Homo sapiens: one gene and its partner. The protein of the gene in region 1 purifies or fractionates together with the protein of each later gene. This does not show direct contact. Each region holds a gene or a part of one and is shown in the gene's direction. Other genes may lie near its edges.

The links. The genes of interacting proteins can lie anywhere in the genome.
Region 2: the proteins of KAT14 (region 1) and ZZZ3 purify together in Homo sapiens (affinity purification with mass spectrometry; 4 studies listed by BioGRID and IntAct, with this or other methods). This does not show direct contact.

Annotation. Positions count from the first base shown.
Region 1 is NC_000020.11:18,154,859-18,161,890, forward strand, and holds part of KAT14 (cysteine-rich protein 2-binding protein), read left to right. Parts: intron 1-4,225; coding exon 4,226-4,407; intron 4,408-6,961; coding exon of another isoform or gene 6,962-6,964; coding exon 6,965-7,032. UniProt on the Homo sapiens protein: Component of the ATAC complex, a complex with histone acetyltransferase activity on histones H3 and H4. May function as a scaffold for the ATAC complex to promote ATAC complex stability. Has also weak histone acetyltransferase activity toward histone H4.
Region 2 is NC_000001.11:77,574,627-77,581,658, reverse strand, and holds part of ZZZ3 (ZZ-type zinc finger-containing protein 3), read left to right. Parts: intron 1-589; coding exon 590-661; intron 662-2,030; coding exon 2,031-2,132; intron 2,133-2,789; coding exon 2,790-2,885; intron 2,886-5,438; coding exon 5,439-5,591; intron 5,592-7,032.

The DNA of each region.
Region 1 (7,032 bases):
TATTCAAGCTATTCTTCACTAATCAAAACTATACCTTCTGGAAGAATTCAAGGCCAGGACTGTAAAAGCAGATTAAATGAACAAATACTAGGCAATTATTCAGTAATAACTAAGTTTTCATATACTTTTTAACTTGTTTCTACAATGGTACATAAAATTATTTAGGTTAGCACACCCCACCATGCACGACTAATTTTTGTATTTTTCGTAGGGACAGGGTTTCACCTTATTGGTCAGGCTGGTCTTGAACTCCTGACCTCAGGTGATCCACCCGCCTGGCCTCCCAAAATGCTGAGATTATAGGCGTGAACCACTGCACCTGGCCAGGACATACTTTAAATTCTTAAAAATTGTAACCATTTCTCATTTGTCACAAGATCTAAGAGAATGCTATACAGTGTAATGAAGTTCTGAATTTTCTTTCAGATGTTTACAGGTTTTTCTTTTATGCCTTTAATATGTTATTAAAGTTTAAATGTAAAAAGGTGGGGGTTTTTTTGGTGCTACCCATCCCCCTTCTCCAGCCACTAGGAAGAAAGCTGTGTGTGTGTTCCTGGAGTGGCTTACACACAGCTTGTAGCATCCAGGGTGGGCAAAAATAAGCCTGTTTTCCAAATACTGGGTATTTGTGCTCTGATCACTGATTGCTGCTTCTAATCATAGAGGTGAAAAGAGATGGCAGCCATTGTTGTTATAGCTCCCCTCATTGCAAAAATGGGTAAAGGCATTTAATAGACACTTCTTCAAAGATATTAAAATGGCCAATAAGCACATCAAAAGATGCTCAGCATCACTAATCATTAGGGAAATGCAAATCAAATCTATAACACGATACCACCTCATGCCTCTTAGGATGACAATTATCAAAGAAACAAAACAACAACTGTGGGCGAGAATGTGGAGAAATGGGAACCCTTTTGCAGTGTTGGTGGGAATGTAAAATTGTACAATCGTTGTGGAAAATGGTGTGGTGTTTCCTCAAATAGTTAAAAATATAATGATCATATGATCTGGCAATTTCACTTCTGGGTATATACTCAAAAGGACTGAAAGCAGGGTCTCAGAGATACTTGTATATCCATGTTTTTAGCAGCATTATTCACAATAACTGAGATGTGGAAGCAACCAAAGTGTCCATCAGTAGATGAATGGATAAGCAAAATGTGGCATATACATACAGTGGATATCATTCAGTCTTAAAAAGGAAGGACATTCTGGCACATGCTGCAGTGTAGATGAACCTTGAGGACATTATGCTGTGTGAAACAAACCAATCACAAGAAAACAAACACTGTGTGATTCCACTTATCTGAGATACTTAGGGTAGTGAAAATCACAGATACAGAACGTAGAATGGTGGTTGTCAGCACTTGGCGGGGAGGGTGGAATTGGGAGTTGTTTAACGGATATAGAGTTTCGGTTTTGCCCTGTGAAAAGTGTTCTGAAAGTGGATGGTGGTGGTGATTGTACCATATAAATGTACTTAATACCACTGAACTATACTGTTAAAAATTGTTCAGATAGTAAATGTTATGTATATTTTACCACAATAATAATTTTGGGGGAAAACTATTGAGGCCATTCATAAATACTGTGTTTGTATATGTCCTGGCAACAAATTTATTCCATTCCATACAAATGTCTCATTATGTGTTGTGCTGTGATTTAGCTGGCTATATTAGTTTGCTAATGATGCTGTAACACAAACTGGATGGCTTAAACAACAGAAATGTATTCTAGTTCTAGAGGCTGGAAATCTGAAATCCAGGTGTTGATAGGATTGGTTCCTTTTGAAGGCTGTGAGGGAGAGAGTATTTTATGCCTCTCCCCTAGCTTCTGTTAGCCACAGGCCTTCCTTGGCTTGTAGATGACGTTCTCCCTGTGTCTTCATGCATCTTCCCTCTCTACACGTCTGTCTCTGTGTCCAAGTTTCCCCTTTGTGTAAGGACACCAGTCATATTGGATTAGTGTTCAACTTAATGACCTCATGATCACTGTTTGCACATAAGGTCACATTCACAAGTACTGGGACTTCCAACATCTTTTGGGAGGATACGATGAAATCTGTAACACTGGCCGATAATTTTATAAACATTTATGTTATTTCCAGTTTTTCTGTGTTTAAGTTAGCCTTGTGGGGCATATTCTTGTATATATATCCTTTGTGTTTTTGTGATTAGAAGTAGATTTGCGAGGTCAGAGGATACACACAATTTTGCTGTACATTATGAAAGTAACCTCCAGAAAGTATATGCCCATTTATAGTCCCACTGTCAATGTACAAGTACGCACCCGTTTTCGACACAGTAAATAACACATTGGTTTTTAAAATCTTTTGAGTCTTTGTCAGTCTTTTTTATTGTTTTTGTTTGTTTGAGATAGGGTTTCACCCTGTCACCCAGGCTGGAGTGCAATGGCACAGTAATGGCTCACTGCAGCCACTACCTCCCAGGCACAAGTGATCCTCCCACCTCAACCTCCCAAGTAGCTGGGACCACAGGCACGTGCCATCACACCCAGCTAATTTTTTTATTTTTATTTTTTTGTAAAAATGAGGTCTCACTATGTTGCCCAGACTTCTGTTTGTTTATTGCAGTAAAAACAGTGAAAATTTACCATCTTAACCAGTTCCAAGTGTACAGTTCAGTGGTGTTAAGTATGTTCACGTATTTGAATATAGATTCACAGATGGCCAGAACTCTTCTCAGCTTGCAGATCTGAAACTCTATCCCTATTAAATAACTCTCCATTCTCCCCTCCCCACAGCTCTAGGCAGTCACCATTCTACTTTCTGTGTCTATGAATTTGACTACTCTAAATACTTCATATATGTAGAACCATACAGTATTTGTCTTTTTGGGACTGGCTTATTTCACTTAGCATAAGTGTCCTCAAGGGTTATCCACATTGCAGTATGTGATAGGATTTCCTTTATTTTTAAGACTGAATAATATTCTATTGTATGTGTTTATGCTACATTTTGTATTTATTAGAGAGGATTTGGAAAGATTAGAAAAAGATAAGAATGTAGGAGAGGTACTTTGGAACCAAAAGCTTGGGGGTTTCATTCTCTCCATCTCAGATAGTGCTTTTTTTGAGACCCAGTTTCATTCTTGTTGCCCGGGCTGGAGTGCAATGGTGCAGTCTTGGCTCACTGCAGCCTCCGCCTCTCGGGTTCAAAGATTCTCCTGCCTCACCCTCCCGAGTAGCTGGGATTACAGGCATGTGCCACCACACCCAGCTAATTTTGTATTTTTAGTAGAGACGGGGTTTCACCCTGTCAGCCAAACTGGTCTCGAACTCCTGACCTCAGGTGATCCACCCGCCTCGGCCTCCCAAAGTGCTGGAATTACAGGCGTGAGCCACCGCACCCAGCCTCAGATAGTGCTTATGCCTACTATAGCTGAGCTTATTTGTTTTGTTTATTTTCTGAGTTTTCTATTAATATTACGTCTCTGTTCCTCAGAATGGTTTTCCTTTGCCTTCCCAGCAATACCTTCCAACTGTTAGACTGGTCTTCTTGTGAAAGACTGTCTTCTAGGATTTCCGGGGATTGATGTATCTTTTCAAGGTGGAAATAGAACAGTCGCCTTGAAAGAATTTCCGTTAGGGAACCCGGATAGTTGGCATTTTGCATGTTTTGTTATTTTGTTGTGCAGTAGGTGCTCTCTGTGTTTGTGGAGTATACCACATAGTTTTGTTACCACTCTAGTGCATCGAGGCAGATAGGATCAGATTGAGAGATGTGTGCTACTCCTCGGGTAAAATGAGGTATTTACTGGAGCCAGTTAACTTCTATCACAAAATGCCCAGCCTTGGAGTTACACTTTTTGTATGCTTTATTCTTGGGAGCTGTGCTTAATTCACATAACAAAGCAACTTAATTAAAATTAGCCTGTAGAATTCCATAATCGTGATGATTGTGATGAGAAGTATTTCACGTGCTTTGTTTGAATTATTGCATTTAATCCTCACAGCAACCCTGTGAGGTAAGTTCTATTATCCTGATTTTACAGATGAACAAACCGAGGCTGCTAGAAGTTGGTAGCGCCAGGGTTTGAAGCAGGCGAACTCCAGAGCCTCTCTCCTGCCTCTCGTGCTCTGCTCCTTCAGTAGCTGGAGGTGCCATTGCATGTTGCAGGCCAGGAGTCACAGTATACACAGACTGTCTTTTCTGTATAATGAGCAAAAGTGCCAATCATTTTTAAATTCTTGGACTCTTTAGGAAAAAGACGTCTACCTGGTGGAGCACCGTGGCAGGTTGCCTCAGCGTGGGAAGTCCCATGTACTTCCGTTCAGGTGCTCAGGAATTTGGAGAGCCAGGATGGTGGAAACTTGTTCATAACAAGCCCCCAACGATGAAACCTGAAGGAGAGAAGTTGTCTGCCTCTACTTTGAAAATAAAAGGTACTGTTGTGAGAACAGTACAAAAGTTGCTAGTCAGACCAGAGCCAAGCAGGTGTGAGCCCAGGAGACGCTCCTGCTTCCACTGGGCATGGCTCGCAGGCCTCTCTGGAGCTACTCTGTTTAACACTTCTGTGATGACACTTGTGTGTGTGCTAGAAATAAATGCCACATAAAAACATTTTATCACTTCCTAATCAAGCTATCAGTTTTATAAATTTCCCAGGGTATCTGAAAGGTTCAATGTTTTCCATCTGGTTTTTGTTTTTAAACTTCTCACAAAGGTGAAGAGATATTTTAAAATTCCCGTAATAAATAACATGATGAATTCCCATGTACCTTCCACCTCACTTTGACATTAACTCCTGACAGTCTCATTTTATCTAAATCCTCAGTACTTTTCCCCAACCTTCCCCATTCTTACAATTGGATTATTTAGAAACAAATCCCAGGAATCAACATTTCATTCCTAAATATCTTAGTATGTATCTCTAAGAGATCAGGATTCTTTCCTTTTTGCAGCCTGACCATAATGCCATTTTCATATTTAAAAAGATGTTAACAGTGACTTCTTACTATCACATATTGATCTGGTTTTATAATCTAAAAAGCTTTTAATGAGCTTTTAAATTTTTATATTTATTTGTTTGCTTGTTTGTTTATTTATTTGAGGTACAGTCTCGCTTTGTTGCCCAGGCTGGAGTGCAGTGGTGCAATCTTTGCTCACTGCAACCTCTGCCTCCTAGGTTCAAATGATTCTCGTGCCTCAGCCTCCCAAATAACATGCCACCATGCCCAGCTAATATTTTTGTATTTTTATTACAGACGGGGTTTTGCCATGTTGGCCAGGCTGATCTCGAACTCCTGACCTCAGGCGATCCACCTGCCTTGGCCTCACAAAGTGCTGGGATTACAGGGTGAGCCACCGGATCAGGCTGATGAGCTTTTAAAATTTTAAAAATATGATTGGGAAGAAAATCAAATAGTACTTAAGGGTGTAAAGTATGAAAGTTCCCCCACCTGCCTATGGCCTGCAATTTCACTTCCCAGAGTAACCACTGTTGTCTTTTGTGAATACTTTCAGAAAGATCTCTGCAGATTTAAGCATTTTCTTAGTTTTTTAAAAAAGTAAAATGGACTCGTACTATTATGAGTTTTCCATTTTTGCCACACTTACCAGTATGTCTTGGACATCTTTCCATGACAGTACATGTAGATTTACCCTATTTTATTTCATTACATCCATTATATAATTATGTGATAATTTGTTAAACCATTCTCCTGTTGATGGACATTTTGGTTGTTTCTACCTTTTTGTTGCTATTTTATTTATTTATTTTTTAATTAAAACATTTTTAAAAAGTAATAGAGATAGGGTCTCGCCATGTTTCCTGGGCTGGTCTTGAACTGTTGGGCTCAAGTGATCCTCCAGCCTCTCCTTCCAAAAGTGCTGGGATTACAGGCATGAGCCATCATGCCTGACCTTTTGTTACTTTAAACAGTGCTACAATTCTACAAATTTGTGTACATGTGAAAATGTGATAAATTCCTGGAGTTTCTACATCAAAGGGCATATTCATTCAAAATTTTAATCAGGATTGCCAAATTATCCTCCAAGAAACTGTAATAAGGCCGGGCATGGTGGCTCATGCCTGTAATCCCAGTACTTTGGGAGGCCGAGACAGGTGGATCATCTGAGGTCAGGAGTTCGAGACCAGCCTGGCCAACATGATGAAACCCCATCTGTACAAAAATACAAAAATCAGCCGGGCGTGATGGCGCATGCCTGTAATCCCAGCTTCTCTGGAGGCTGAGGCAGGAGAATTGCTTGAACCCGGGAGGCGGAGGTTGCAGTGAGCCGAGATCACACCACTAACATTCCAGCCTGGGTGACAGAGCAAGACCCTGTCTCAAAAAAAAAAAAAAGTACCCATTGAAATGCCCATGAAAATGCCCATTTCCCCATACATTTACTGAGCTTTATCAAACTTTTTTTTTGGCTCACTGCAGCCACCACCTCCCAGGCTCAAAATCCACCCACCTCAGCCTCCCAAAGTTCTGGGATTAAGAGGCGTGCACCACCACGCCTGGCTAAACTTTTAATGTTTGCCAGTTCCAGTAGGTGAAAGATAGTATTTATTTGTTTAAATTTGCAGTATAACTTCTTTTTTCTCAAGAGATATCTAAGTCTTTTTTAGTTTAGGGCATTCATTGAACATTTCTCTTTATTGAACATGATATTACTCATAATAATAAATTAGCAAAAGAAACTAAAGTTGAGTAGTTATTTTAAAATTTAGATATGGGTTGAGCAATCCAAATCTGAAAATCCAAAATCAAAAACACTCCAAAATCTGAAACTTTTTCAGCACTGACATAACGCTCAAAGGAAATGCTCATTTGCAGCATTTCGGATTTTGTATTTCTGGGTTTGGGATACTCAGCCAATAAGTAAAATGCAAATATTCCAAAAGCCGAAAACATCTGAAATCCAAAACATGCTTGTGCCCAAGCATTTCAGATGAGGGATACTCAGCCTGTATTTATTCTTTCTTAGCAGCCTCAAAACCAACTTTAGATCCCATCATTACTGTTGAGGGACTTAGAAAACGAGCAAGTCGGAATCCT
Region 2 (7,032 bases), on another chromosome or scaffold:
AAGAACTTTGAAATTAAGAGAAACTTAGGTTGGAGTCCTAACTTACTAGCCGTGAACCTTCAGACATCATTTACGTTGAAGTCTCTAAGCTGCAGTTTCCTTTTGTATAAAATGTAGTTGATATTACCTATCTTGTAGGGTTGTTGGTGAGGGTTAAATAGGTAGTATATGCAATGTGCCTAGTACAGTATCCGACACATAGTATTTACTCTAAAAATAGTAGTTCCTTTGTGTGTAGTGAAATGTGACCAGGATTTGAGTCCTGGCCTTGCCACTCTTAGTTAGATGAACCTCAGTGGACATGTTACTTTTCAATTCTGAGCCCACATTTCCTTTCCCTTTTTTAAAAAATGAAGTTACAGTACTATTATGTATTTCACAGGATTGCTGAGAGTATAAAACCAAACAAAATAAAATAATGTGAAGGCATTTTGTAAACAGTTAAAAAAAAAGCATATACATTAAAAAACAAATTTACTCAAATATTTTGAAATTAATTTAAAAATTCCACAATTTGCGTGTTATTTGGCTATATCAAAGGATAGGTGTTGTTATTTTCTCTCTGACAAAAGCCTTGTCTTATGTGCAGATGATAAGAGGACGCTTGTGTGATGATACCAAACCTGAAACATTTAACCAGTTGTGGACTGTTGAAGAACAGGTAATAAATATTTCAAAATCGTGTAGGCTTAAAAAAACAAGTAAACAGTTAACATCAGAGTCAGTATTATGAGGCCAGGTCCAGTGGCTCACGCCTGTAATCCCAGCACTTTGGGAGGCTGATATGGGTGGATCACTTGAAGTCAGGAGTTCAAGACCAACCTGGCCAACATGGTGAAACCCTACTAAAAATACAAAAATTAGCCGGGTGTGATGGCGTGTGCATATATAATCCCAGCTACTCGGGAGGCTGAGGCAGGAGAATTGCTTGAACCCAGGAGGCAGAGGTTGCATTGAGCCAGGATCATGCCACTGCACTCCAGGCTGGGCAACAGAGTGAGACTCCATCTCAAAAAGAAAAGAGCCTGTATTTTGAGTCAGGTGTATATTGTTGTATGTGATGCCTGTTAGCCATGAGTTTTAAATATTTAGGCTTATTTTTGTATACCTTTTTGCATACGTCAAGAATTTTGGATTTTGAGAATGTGTAAACTTTTGTTTGGGGATAATTTTAAAAGAAGGAACCTGGGTTTTGAGAGGGGAGTAGAAGTGGATAGAATAAAATAGATGTTTTTGTAATGTAGCTTTGGGAGAGAGAAAAACCTGAGGCCAGTAAAGCTGAGCTTCAAAGTGCATTCTTATTTTTGTTGTCGAAGGGAGGTGAGGAAGTCAAGTCAGTTTTGGCATACAGTTTAGAATTGTTTTTTGGCTAATGGCTAGGGTTGTTAGTGGGTGAAGTTTGAGGCACATCTTTGTCTCATATGGCTATTAACCCCACAGCTATACATTTAACAGTTTATAAAAAGCTTTGGGAAATCTATTTATTTCAAGCATCCAGATTTTTCTGCATCTTTAGGACTATGAGAAGATACAGGAGACAAGAAGGAATATTAAAATCAAATATTTGAATAAAGGACCATACAAAAGAAGGAAAAGCCTCTTTTAATAGTCGAAATTTAAGTGAATTTACACGTTTTTGTTAAAACTGTAGGGGAAAGAAAAGTAAGAAAAGATTGACCATCTTTTCTTGGATTTCAGTGGATTTAGTGATTTCAGTGGAAATCACTAAAATGTGTAATCTACCAATTTGTTTACTTATTTTCTGTTTTCTTATGAGATATTTTTACTTATGTGAATAGAAAACTTTTCTAAGCTCTTTCATAAGTTTATTCTCTAATTTCATTGTTCCCTGTGAAGTCTTAAGTTTCTAACTAGAAATTTTTCCTACCATGAGGATTTCTAATTACGTAACCCCCAAAGGTGGGAGAGAGTATTACATTTTGAAATGAAATGTGAATGTATTTATTTAGAAATCCAATATTTAAAATTAAATACATATTTTCTTAAATTTGGTCTTGGGTATGGCTTAGAAAAAGCTGGAACAGCTACTCATCAAATACCCTCCTGAAGAAGTAGAATCTCGACGCTGGCAGAAGATAGCAGATGAATTGGGCAACAGGACAGCAAAACAGGTAATTGAGGAGATGACTGCAGATTGCTGGTATGCTTTTGGTAGTTTTTTAATAAAGGAGAATAATGCAGCTGACATTGGGCGATCTGCCATAACACTTTCAGCTACAGAGTGCTGTAGTATGTGGTGTTTTTTTAAAAAAATTGTATATATTTTCGTTGATTTCAGAAACAACTTGAGATACTTCTGCTTTGGATCATTACGAAATATTAAAAAATGAACATATAATGGACTTAATTTCTCTTGAATGCTTACTAAATATACTAATTGTATACTTTTTGGTTATACTGAGCAAACAGATTTGTTTCATTGCCTTAGTGTTTCCTGGTTGTCTTTCTAAAAATGTATCTTGCAGTTTACTCCTTCATATTCCCATCTATATTAATAGATGTGTTTTTATACTACAAATGTAAGTGTTCACAAGTTGAAATATGTGTTTAGCTTTAGAATCAAATTTAAATTTACTTGAATAATTTTTGTTTGGCCTAGATTTTAAAATATATGTGTATTTGGTGGCAGTTTATTGTTAATTCTAGATTCATGATGAGTATTGAATTCTTAGCATTCATTAGATACTCATGTACGTTTTAATTTTTAAAAACGACTCAGGTATTGTATGTCATCTCATTGTGTTAAGAGACTTGTCATGTTTCCTTAGGTTGCCAGCCGAGTACAGAAGTATTTCATAAAGCTAACTAAAGCTGGCATTCCAGTACCAGGCAGAACACCAAACTTATATATATACTCCAAAAAGGTAAAAGAAAATACATGAAAGTAAACTGTAGATTAAATTTATTAAAGTAAGAATTGCTATGTAAAAATCTACACATTTGACAGAATAGTGTTGTATTTTAAAACTTCTGTTCATTCTAAGCATTTCCTTATATTGTGCAAAAGTGGAGGGTAAGGACTCCATTATTGCTGCTCAGTGAAATTCATGATTCTTCATTATTTTCTTTGGAGTAATGTGAATGAGTGCTACTTGAAAGATTTTAGATTCAAAATATGTTAGAAAGGCCTTTGTGAGGGTAAAGTTTTTAGGATATTTGATTATTTAATAAATCAATCATTTAATAAATTTAATAGATCAATTTCTGTTTTGTAGATAATGCTACATAAATCCAAGAATAGAAAGGTTTATTATGATATTCTAAAGCCAGGCACAGTGGTGTGCACCTGTTGTCCCAGCTACTTGGGAGGCTGAGGCACGAGGAACACTTGAGGCCAGGAGTTTGAGTCCAACTTAGGCAACATAGTGAGGTCCCGTATCTTTAAAAAAATAAAATATTGTATTTAATCCTTTCTACAATTCTTGAAATATAAGTAGTCTTATCATCTTCACTTTACTGACATAATATTAATAGCTAGCTGTTATATTGAGGGCTCTGAGCCAGACTCTACTGTTCTATAACCTTTTATTTGGTAAGGAAACTGGGCCCTCAGGTATGTTGAGTGAATTATCTAGTTGCTTAGCTGCTAAGTCTGGGAACCACTGATTCTCTCCCATTCTGATGCCACACTTTTTCCACTTTTCTCTGTTGCTTTCTACAGTGGAGAAGCTACTGTTTCTTTCCCAAACAGGACACTACATTAAAATGTAGCCAGTTTCGGCCGGGCACGGTGGCTCACGCCTGTAATCCCAGCACTTTGGGAGGCCGAGGCGGGTGGATCACGAGGTCAGGAGTTCAAGACCAGCCTGGCCAATATGGTGAAACCCCGTCTCTACTAAGAATACAAAAATTAGCCGGGTGTGGTGGCACGCACCTGCAGTCCCAGCTGTTCGTTCTTGTAATCGCAAAAAATAAAGACACCTAATTGGCTGTTTTAAATTTTCTTAATAAGTTATCCTGTTACTTTTCCCTCCCCACCACTGACATCTTTCTCATAAAGAGAAGCTAAGAGTATATCTAGTGCTGTTATCCTTCCATACTGAAGCTATTTCATGTAATTTTACATTAAGAATATTGTCTATACAGTTTCATGTTTTACACATTAAAAAAAAATTTTTTTTAACCGAGCTTTGGAAGCTTGTTTTAATTTGCCAATTGTTTTAAATATTTTGGGTTTCCCACCAAATATAGCACAACCTGTGTAGATTTGTAGAGTTCATCCTATAACTGTGGAATATTGGAACCTTACATTAACCTGTGTTTAATGTAAGAGCTCTTATTTTCATGGTTAATTTCTAAGCTAATTTTATAGATGTAACCATGTTTTCATCATTAACACTGGATAATGATAACAAAAGGAATACTGGAGAACGTACATGTGTTTTTTTCCCTTAGGTGTACTGTATTTTGGCTGTGAAGATCTAGTACAGCTATATTTACAATGATTGCTTGCCATTGTTAGAGTTTAAATTTGGAAACAGGTGAAATGATGGTTCTTCATGTAGCTGAGGGTGTTCTTTGTGACTGTGCTATTGATCAAGACAGGCAGGCTGCATAGTGGTGGAAAGTGAGAATTTGGGCACCACATAGGCCTAGTTTATAATCCTGGTTCTACCACTATCTAGCTGCAACACACTGAACAAGAAACTTAACCTCCCTGTCCTCAGTTTTCTCATTTTTAAATTAGAGGTGATGATAACTACGTTATAGGAATGTTGTAAGGATTAAATGACATTGGCATAGAGCAAGCTTGTCCAACCCATGACCCACGTACCACATGTGGCCCACGACAGCTTTGAATGTGGCCCAACACAAATTGGTAAACTTTCTTAAAACATTACAAGAAATTTTTTTTTTGTTGTTTTTTTGTTTTTTTTTTTAGTGTGAGTGTATTTTATGTGTGGCCCAAGACAATTCTTCCAATGTAGCCCGGGGAAGCCAAAGATTGGACAACCCTGGCATAGAATAAGCAGTCAATCAATGTTAGATAAGTATTTTCAGATATTCATAATGTTATAGAAATTTTCCTTTTACTTTTTACTGGATAGTTTTATGTCTGGCATAGGCCACTTCATCCTGTCTGATCTTCTATAAGATGATCATAAGAATTCAGTGCAGCCAGCATTTGACTGCCAAGAGTATGATAAATGCTGGGGATACAAATATAAGCTAGATATTAAACATGTGGTCCATTTTACCGTTGTTGGGGTATTTCCCCTACATTTAAAAAAAATTTTTTAAAGCTAGTTATGCTTTAAAAACGCAGAAAACAGAAAAAGCAACAACATAAGAGTATGCTAAAGGATAGAGTGAAATTCTTCTGATAGACTTGTTGGAAGTAACATTTGTATTTTTATATTTTTGATTCTTGTAATGATTTTTCACTGAACCAATTAAAAATTTGTTTTCTTACTTAGTCTTCAACAAGCAGACGACAGCACCCTCTTAATAAGCATCTCTTTAAGCCTTCCACTTTCATGACTTCACATGAACCGCCAGTGTATATGGATGAAGATGATGACCGATCTTGTTTTCATAGCCACATGAACACTGCTGTTGAAGATGCATCAGTAAGTTATACACATCAAGTTGTTATATACATCAAGGTATAGAAGAGAGTAGGATTTTCTAATTATTTCCACTCTTCAGAGAATGTTGGTTTCTTTTAATGAACAAGTCAAATGTATAGTTTTTAAGTAATGTACTTTTGTGAGGAAAATTTCAAACATATACAAAAATAGAATAGTATAATGAACCTTAACAATTATCAACATGAAGCTACCTTATTTTAATCTCTACTCCCTACCCACCTCAACTCTGCTCTGGATTATTTTGGAGCAAGTCCCAGATATTACACAATATAATTATCATGTTTATAAAAGGTAATTTGTTATACAGTGAAATATATAGTCACTGTTCATGATTTTTTTTCTAATTTCTTCATTTGGGTTTGGATCCAAATAAAGCCCATAAATCACAATAGGTTCATTCTCCCTCTTTCACTTTCCTTTTTTCCCTCTCCCAATGTTTTTGTTGAAGAACTGGTTCATTTGTCTTATAGAATTTTGCAGTATGGATTTTATTGATTACATCTTCTTGTCATTTAATCTGTTCCTCTGTTTTCTGAACTTCCTGTAAATTCATAGTAGGTCAAGAGCATTGATGAGATTCAGATGTATTTGTTTGTTAGGGTGGGCAGGACTACTTCACGTTTACTTTCATCAGCCTGGTTGTCTCTTTTTTTGGCATAACAGCCACTGATCATTGACTAAATTGATTAATTCATTAGATGTTACAGAATAGTGATTATGCTATCATTTCTTCATTTACTTGCTGGACTATTCTAAAAGTAATCCCCCTGCCCCCTAGTCAACTATTTGGTTACTCTGAGGTACATATAGAAAAGGTGGGATAATTGCTCAATTCTCCCTTTTTTTTCTTTTTCTTTCTTTTTTAGGCAGAGTCTCGCTCTGTCGCCCAGGCAGGAGTGCAGTGGTGCAATCTCGGCTCACTGCAGCCTCTGCCTCCCAGGTTCAAGTGATTCTCCTGCCTCAGGCACCTGAGTAGCTGAGACTACAGGCATGTGCCACCATGCCCGGCTAGTTTTTGTATTTTCAGTAGAGGCGGGGGTTCACTATGTTGGCCAGGATATTCTCGATGTCCTGACCTCGTGATCTGCCTGCCTCGGCCTCCCAAAGTGCTGAGATTATAGGCGTGAGCCACCATGCCTGGCCTGTTTTCTGGTTTTTAAAATAATGAGTTCATTTTCTCATATCCTTCAAAGATGACCAATGAGGTTTAAAAATTTTTTGTATTCTTATGAACTATTGGCCCTAAATGTATTTAATGTATTTCAATTCATTGATGTTACTGCCTTTGTTAGTGTTCAAAGTGGCCCATCTTTGGTTTGTTGTAGCCTATTTAAGTTGGCTTATAAGTTCTTTTGATAAGACTCTAATAGTGTTTAATAGCTTAATACCCATTTTTAACAAGGAAAATCCAGGCTCATCT